Linked DNA regions of Homo sapiens. The protein of the gene in region 1 purifies or fractionates together with the protein of each later gene. This does not show direct contact. Each region holds a gene or a part of one and is shown on either strand. Other genes may lie near its edges.

Evidence for each region.
Region 2: the proteins of ELMOD3 (region 1) and DDI2 purify together in Homo sapiens (affinity purification with mass spectrometry; one large-scale study listed by BioGRID and IntAct). This does not show direct contact.

Annotation. Positions count from the first base shown.
Region 1 is NC_000002.12:85,357,458-85,361,278, forward strand, and holds part of ELMOD3 (ELMO domain-containing protein 3), read left to right. Parts: intron 1-3,821. UniProt on the Homo sapiens protein: Acts as a GTPase-activating protein (GAP) for ARL2 with low specific activity.
Region 2 is NC_000001.11:15,623,650-15,627,470, forward strand, and holds part of DDI2 (protein DDI1 homolog 2), read left to right. Parts: intron 1-3,019; coding exon 3,020-3,149; intron 3,150-3,821. UniProt on the Homo sapiens protein: Aspartic protease that mediates the cleavage of NFE2L1/NRF1 at 'Leu-104', thereby promoting release of NFE2L1/NRF1 from the endoplasmic reticulum membrane.

The DNA.
Region 1 (3,821 bases):
TTTTCTTTTTGCTTGGGTAGTGGGGAGAATTTCATTGAGGAATCACCCAAGAAATCTGTATTTCATTGATTTGGATCATTACCTTACTAGCCTCTTCCCTGTGAAACGCTTGCTTTGGCCTGATCATCCTCAGGACTCAGTTCAATGTGATATGTCTTTGTATGAGCCGGGCAGCTAACCCTACATGCCTTACCTTTCACACTACTTTGCCCACCCAAAAATGGTCTTAAATGGAGGCTGTGGGATTCAGTGGCCAGACTGGGACAAAGCCTTTGCTTTGGGTCTCCAGAAAGATTTTCTTCACTGTAGTAATATGCGAACTGTTCCAAAGAGGGAAGTCTTTGGACACTGGAGGGGACTGAATTGGAGAAGGAAAGGAAGGATGAAATGAATCTCAGGTACACAGATGCCTGCAGGAAGTTGTTCAGCACAATGAATCACCAAATATTTTAGAGATAAAATTTCAACAAAAATTTGAGAAATATATTTTGTGCTTAGTACTGTGCCAATGGTTGTGAAACATATAAAAGAAATATAAGAGCCTGGAGGCAGTGGCTCACGCCTGTAATCCCAACACTTTGGGAGGCTGAGGTGGGCAGATCACTTGAGGTCGGGAGTTGGAGACCAGCCTGGCTAACATGATGAAACCCTGTCTTTACTAAAAATACAAAATTATCTGGGCATGGTGGTGCATGCCTGTAATCCCAGCTACTCAGGAAGCTGAGGCAAGAGAATCGCTTGAACCCAGGAGGCGGAGGTTGCAGTGAGCTGGGATCACACCATTGCACTCCAGCCTGGGTGACCAAGTGAGACTCTGTCTCCAAAAAAAAAAAAAAAAAAAATGAAAAAAGAAATATAAGAGAAGGTCCTTATGCAGGCCTTTTGCAGAGGAACTTTTGCTGCATACAAGGGTTACTGGACTTAGAGGTGTGAGACAGCATTGTAGCCCCAGCTAGTAAGGTAGGTTGCCTTGAGTAGGTGGAACTGACCTTGATCAGAGAAGAGAGTGGAGGTGTATTCTGGAGGAAAACTACATGAACAAAGGGATGGAAGTGAGGAGAGGGATCTGCAGCAGGTGTGTTGATTGCATTACAGTGGGAAATAAATGCTTAGCCATCATGAGCTCCTTTACCAGGGAGCTTGGTCAGCTGTGAGGTGTTTTGGCCTCCATCCTTGCATCTGGAACATGAAGAAATGAAAGTTGTGTTTAATGAGCATTAGTTGGAAAGGCAAAAAAAAAAAGCAGAAGGATTAGAGTAACAGGATGATCTGGGATTCCAGGGCCTTGGCATAATACATTCACATGGTTCAAAATGCAAAAAGTACAGAACGATATATGTATTGTGAAGAAACCACCTTCCACCCTTGTCCCCCCAGCCACTCAGTTTTTCTGCTGGAGACAAAGCTACTGCTTCCTTGGGTATAACTGTGAAAATGGTCTCTGCAGAGACAAGCAAATGTGCTTATGTACTTTTAAAAAATAAAATGGTAAAATAGTGTATAGACTCTGTCCTTTGCTTTTTCACTTAATACATCACGGAAATTGTCCCATATTGCCTGTAAAGTAAAGCACTTTCTCATTTGTCTTTATGGCCATATAGTATCTCACTGAGTGAATGTGCTTTTATTTATGTAAATCAGCCCATTAATGAACATTTAGGTTTTTCCAGCCTTTCCCTATTATAAACAGTATGACAAAGAATCACACTATAAATGTAAACATGTCGGTTTTGCACATGGATGAATATATCTGTTAGATAAATTACTAGAATGCAGTATCAGGCCCCGCATGTACAAAACATGTATGATTTCATTAGGTACTATCAAGCTGTAGAGGTGGTAACAGTTTACTCTCCAGTGTGTTATGCACTCTGGCCAATGTACATGTTATCAGACTTTTTGATCTTTGATAATCTGACTAATGAAACACAGTAGTTTTACATGACTCTTTTTTTTTTTTTTTTTTTTGAGATGGAGTCTTGCTCTGTTGCCCAGGCTGGAGTGCAATGACGCGATCTCGGCTCACTGCACCCTCCGCCTCCCAGGTTCAAATGATTCTCCTGCCTCAGCCTTTCGAGTAGCTGGGATCACAGGTGTGCACCACCACGCCCGGTGTGCTAAAAATACAAAAAAAATACTTTTTTGTATTTTTAGTAGAAACAGGGTTTCACCATGTTGGCCAGGCTGGTCTTGAACTCCAGACCTCAGGTGATCCACCCACCACAGCCTCCCAAAGTGCTGAGATTACAGGTGTGAGCCACGGTGCCTGGTGACGTTTTTCTGTTTTGCTTTTTTTTGTTTTGTTTTGTTTTAATGAGTGAGGTTGAACATTTGTTCATATGTTTAAAACCAATTTGTGATTGTGCAGGATGGCTCGTGTCTGTAATCCCAGCACTTTGGGATGTCAAGGTGGCTTGAGCCCAGGAATTTGAGACCAGCCTGGGCAACCATATGTAGACCCCATGGCTACATGGGCATGGTGGTGTGCACCTGTGGTCCCAGCTGCTTGGAATGCTGAGGTGGGAGAATCCCTTGAGCCAAGAAGTGAGTGAGCCATGATCGTGCCACTATGCCCCAAGTGGGGCAACAGCGCGAGACTCTATCTCAAAAAAACCCACATGGAGAAACCCCGTCTCTACTAAAAATACTCTACTAAAAATTAGCAGGGCGTGGTGGCGCATGCCTGTAATCCCAGCTACTCAGGAGTCTGAGGCAGGAGAATCACTTGAACCTGGGAGGCATAGGTTGAGGTGAGCCGAGATTGCACCATTGCACTCCAGCCTGGGCAACAAGAGCAAAACTCCATCTCAAAAAAAAAAAAAAAAAAAAGCCACCATTTCAGTTACCTTTTGTGTAAACCATCTATATCCTTTTTCTAATGTTTCCACTGGGTTGGTTTTTCTTTTTTTTTTTTGAGATGGAGTCTCACTCTGTTGCCCAGGCTGGAGTGCGGTGGCGTAATCTCAGCTCGCTGCAACTTCCACCTCCCAGGTTGAAGCCATTCTCGTGCCTCAGCCACCTGAGTAGCTGAGATTACAGGCATGTGCCACTACATCCGGCTAATTTTTGTACTTTTTAGTAGACATTGGGTTTCACCATGTTGGCCAGGCTAGTCTTGAACTCCTGACCTCAAGAGATCCTCCTGCCTTGGTCTCCCAAAGTGCTGGGATTACAGGCGTGGGCTACCACACCCGGCTGGTTTTTCTTTTTTGCCTTAATGATTTTTTTTTTCTCTGAGATTAAACTTTATTAAAGTTACTTTTCCAGAAAATTCAGTGAATATGGTAACATAGGAACAAACTTAGGCTCATAAGCCCTTTACATTTTTACATAATCTTTAATGATGTTGATCAGGAAATTCTTTCACTGGTAGAATTACTTCTCCATTCTCCAGAATTGTATCATCTGGGAATATTCTGGGCTTCTTTTCAATGGTGCCATATGGTTTTTTTAGATACATGATACTTCTTGGTGCTCTATATGTTCAGAGAAACTTCTCTAGTAACAAACTATAGAAATGATGATTTTTTATTTTTTAAACAGTAGAGACAGGGTCTCCGCATGTTGCCCAGGCTGCTCTCGAACTCCTGGGCTCAAGCAATCCTCCTGCCTCAGCTTCCCAAAGTGCTGGGATTGTAGCTGTGAGCCACCACACCTGGTGATTTTTAGGATTTTAAAAGAACACGTTGAAAAATTAGCTCTGTATCTGTGAAATGAGTTACAAACAATTGGCCGAGTATTTTGGTCGGTTTTTTGTTTTTCATCTGTAGCAGGGGATAGGTTTGGCTGAGCAGAAAGGCCATAGGAAACTGCTTCACTAA
Region 2 (3,821 bases), on another chromosome or scaffold:
ACCTCATCCTCCCAAAGTTTTGGAATTAAGGCGTGAGCCATGGCACCCAGCCTGCATAGGATCATTTTGATTCTCCTGAGTTTGCTTCCTCCTTGTAAATAAATAAATTTTCTCTTATAAATAGTTAGTGGCCGGGCGCAGTGACTCACGTCTGTAATCCCAGCACTTTAGGAGGCCAAGGCGGGCAGATCACAAGGTTAGGAGATCGAGACCATCCTGGCTAACATGGTGAAACCCCGTCTCTACAAAAAATACAAAAAAAAAATTAGCCGCTTGTGGGGGCAGGTGCCTGTAGTCCCAGCTACTCAGGAGGCTGAAGCAGGAGAACCTGGGAGGCGGAGCTTACAGTGAGCCGAGATCCCGCCACTGCACCCCAGCCTGGGCGAGAGCGAGACTCCGTCTCAAAATAAATAAATAAATAAATACCGTTAAAATGTGCCTCTGCTCCCAGGAGACTGTTCATGTATCTCTAAATATACTGATAGTTGAATTTCTGAAACTGGAAAATTAAAGAGTAGGTTGTTGACAGTGGCTTCACAGTGTTGATGCTATGCTGTAAGAGCCTGCCTACCTGCCATTTCTCTTGACATACCTCTTTTTTCTTGTTGCACACCTCAACCTGTGACGCTCATCACTTCTGGTTTATGTGTTTTTTCCAAGCAGTCTCACAAGTTATAATATGACTCTCAGTTGTTTTGCTGAAATTCTGTGTTGATGGTGATGTACTTTTACTGTGAAATTTGTGTTTAAATGAGGGTGTGTGAATGGGATGATGGGAGTGACAGTTGCAGTCTGTTGAAATGTGGTTCTTTTTTTGTTTGTTTTTGTTTTTTAAGAGACAGGGTCTTACTCTGTTGCCCCAGGCTGGAGTGCAGTGGTGCAACCGCAGCTCACTACAGCCTGGACCTCCTGGGCTCAAGCAATCCTCCTGCCTCAGACTCCTAAGTAGCTGAGACTACAGTCACATGCTACCATGGCTGGCTATTTAAAATTTTTTTTTTTTAGATATGCGGTCTCACTATGTTGCCCAGGCTGGTCTCAAACTCCAGGGCTTAACCCATTTGTGCTTAGCCTTCCAATGGAACGCTAAGCTTGTGGGAGTTATATCCTACTACTCAAGGTCATTGCCAAGGTATGATTTTTTCACAAAAGAAAATTTGCAACCTCTGGCCTAAATGGGTTAAGTGATGCTCACACCTCAGCCTCCCCAAGTGCTAGGATTATAGGCATGAGCCATCATACCAGATCTGAAATGTGTTTTAACTCAGCGAGTTGAGCATTAAGGACTTAATAGTATTTTTTTTCAAGTCATGCATAAAACTTGTATAATTGGGCCTACAAATTTGCTCATATTCAGAAGAATTTGATTTTGGTAGGAACTCATTTTCCTGTTCTGTTCCTCATGTCTATAAATTCTGAGAGCAGATATGGCATAATCACTTTTTTTCCAGTTTAAATGCTGTGTTTTCAGTTTTTATTTCAGGTAACCTTACTATGAAAGCTGTAAGGAAACATAGAATGATAATGTTAGCAGAGAGAACTGGAAGGGACAGCTGTAATGATGATCTAGCCCACCTGCTTGCTTGACACATGGGAAGGGTGAGGTCTGGACCTGCTGAGTGTCATGCCCCTCGCAGGGAGTTACTGGCAAGGATAGAACTCATGTTCCTCAGTTCGCATGTGGCCTGGTGAAAAATCATTAGGAGGAAAACCTTTCAAAGCCTGAGTTTGTTCTGAATGCCTTTCTGGAGTATGTAATAATGCAGGGCAGATTTTATGTTTTTTCATGATAAAATTATAGTGTACCTTTGTTCTTTCTATCTGCAACACATTATTTCATCTATTTGTGCTGTCAGGTTTTTTTCAGTTTGATTACACATCATAAAATATTTTTATTAGTAGTACATTCCTAATTCTTTTTTCCACTTGTATTTAGTTGTTATTTTCTTAGTTTCACTTTATTTTCCAGTCTCCCCCCTCCCACCACCCCACCAAGATGGAATCTTGCTTGCCCAGGCTAGGGTGCAGTGGTGCGATCTCAGCCCTGCAACCTTTGCCTCCCGGGTTTAAGCAATTCTCCTGCCACAGCCTCTGGAGTAGCTGGGATTACAGGCACGTGCCACGACACTGGGCTAATTTTTGTATTTTTAGTAGAGACGGAGTTTCACCATGTTGGCCAGGCTGGTCTCGAACCCCTGACCTCGTGATCCACCCGCCTTGGCCTCCCAAAGTGCTGGAATTACAGGCGTGAGCCAGCGTGCCCGGCCCAGAGTGATAAAACTTTGGGGGTGGTAGAAGAGAAGGAAGATTGCAGTGCAGGAAGGATGATATTTGGGACCCTTTTGCCAGTGTTCAAGATTATTTCAAAGTGCACACTTTATTTAATAGTACTGTAGTTAGTTAGCATACCCAGAATAAATCATTCCCTTTTCCTCCCTGCTAAAAATTAAATCTAAAATTATATCCATTTCCATAAATTCATTCATTCTTTAGTTCAACAAATATTTGAGCATCAGTTATATAACAGGCCCTGTTCTAAGCATTTATGATCTCGTGAATGAAACAAAGTCTTTGTCCTCAAGTAGTTTACATTTAATGGGGCAGAAGGACAATAAGTAAATATATATTGTGTTAGTTGAGAGTACATTTTAAATAACATAGTAGGGAAGAACTCTAAAGAGTAATGTTTGATCAGAGACGTAAAAGGAAAAAAATGAGTGGAAAAAGAACATTCCTCAGGTAGAGAAAACAAGAGAAACAGCCCTGAAGGGGAAGTTGATCCCTGTTGTTTGAGGAACAGCAGTCATAGTGAAAGGCGAAGTCAGGAGAGCCAGGGACCACATTGTTTGGTCCTGCTAGGTGACGGGAAGGACTGTGGGTTTTGTTCTGGATGTGGTGGGAATCCACTGGAGGGTTTGAAAGGAGGGTGACATCTGATTCAGGGGAAAACTGGTCCTTCTGCCTTGCGCTGTGTTACTTCTCAGTGCTTTATACTGTTGTATATCTTTTCTTGTTGTAGATCGTCTATGCGGAAAGACCTCTCACAGACAACCACAGATCATTGGCTTCTTATGGCTTGAAAGATGGGGACGTTGTGATTTTACGACAGAAGGAGAATGCAGACCCTCGACCTCCAGTGCAGTTCCCAAGTAAGACATCTGGTGGTTGAGCATCCCCCAGCAGAACCATCAGCAGGTAGCAGAGCATAGCACCTCAGAGTTTTGGATTCGCTTTGGATTCAGACTACAGAATACAGATCCTGACTCTGCCTTTTCCCTGCCGTGTAACCTTGAACAAGTATTTTAATGTCTCTAAATTGGTTTCCTCTTCTATAAGTTAGGTGCCATAATTAACCCCAACTCCTAAAGCTGACGTGAGGCTAATGCATGTAAAATCTTAGCACACAGCAAGCCCTCAATAAATGTTAGCTTCTGTTATCAGTGATAATTATACAATAATCTTTATCCTTGGGAAGGACTTGAAAGAATACATAAGCCTATGATTTTGCTACTTTGTGTCTGTCCTTCAGTGGCCAGCCTTTCTGGAGCATTTTATAGCCAGCCAGGCACTTGGAGCTGCATTTCACATGATCTCATAACTTGGTTGTGGGGGGATTTACATACTAATTTGCATAATAATTTATAATTATGAAGCTCAGATTTTAAATGGTGTCTTTAAAGTTACATAGCTATTAAGTGAGGGCACAGGAATTAAAATTTGATGCTTTTTCCATTATGCTGAACTTGATAAACATTAAGCAGCTTGACCACCAAGTTGTGGTTCTTTCCTACCAGCTGTGTTAATCACATACAAAGAAACGT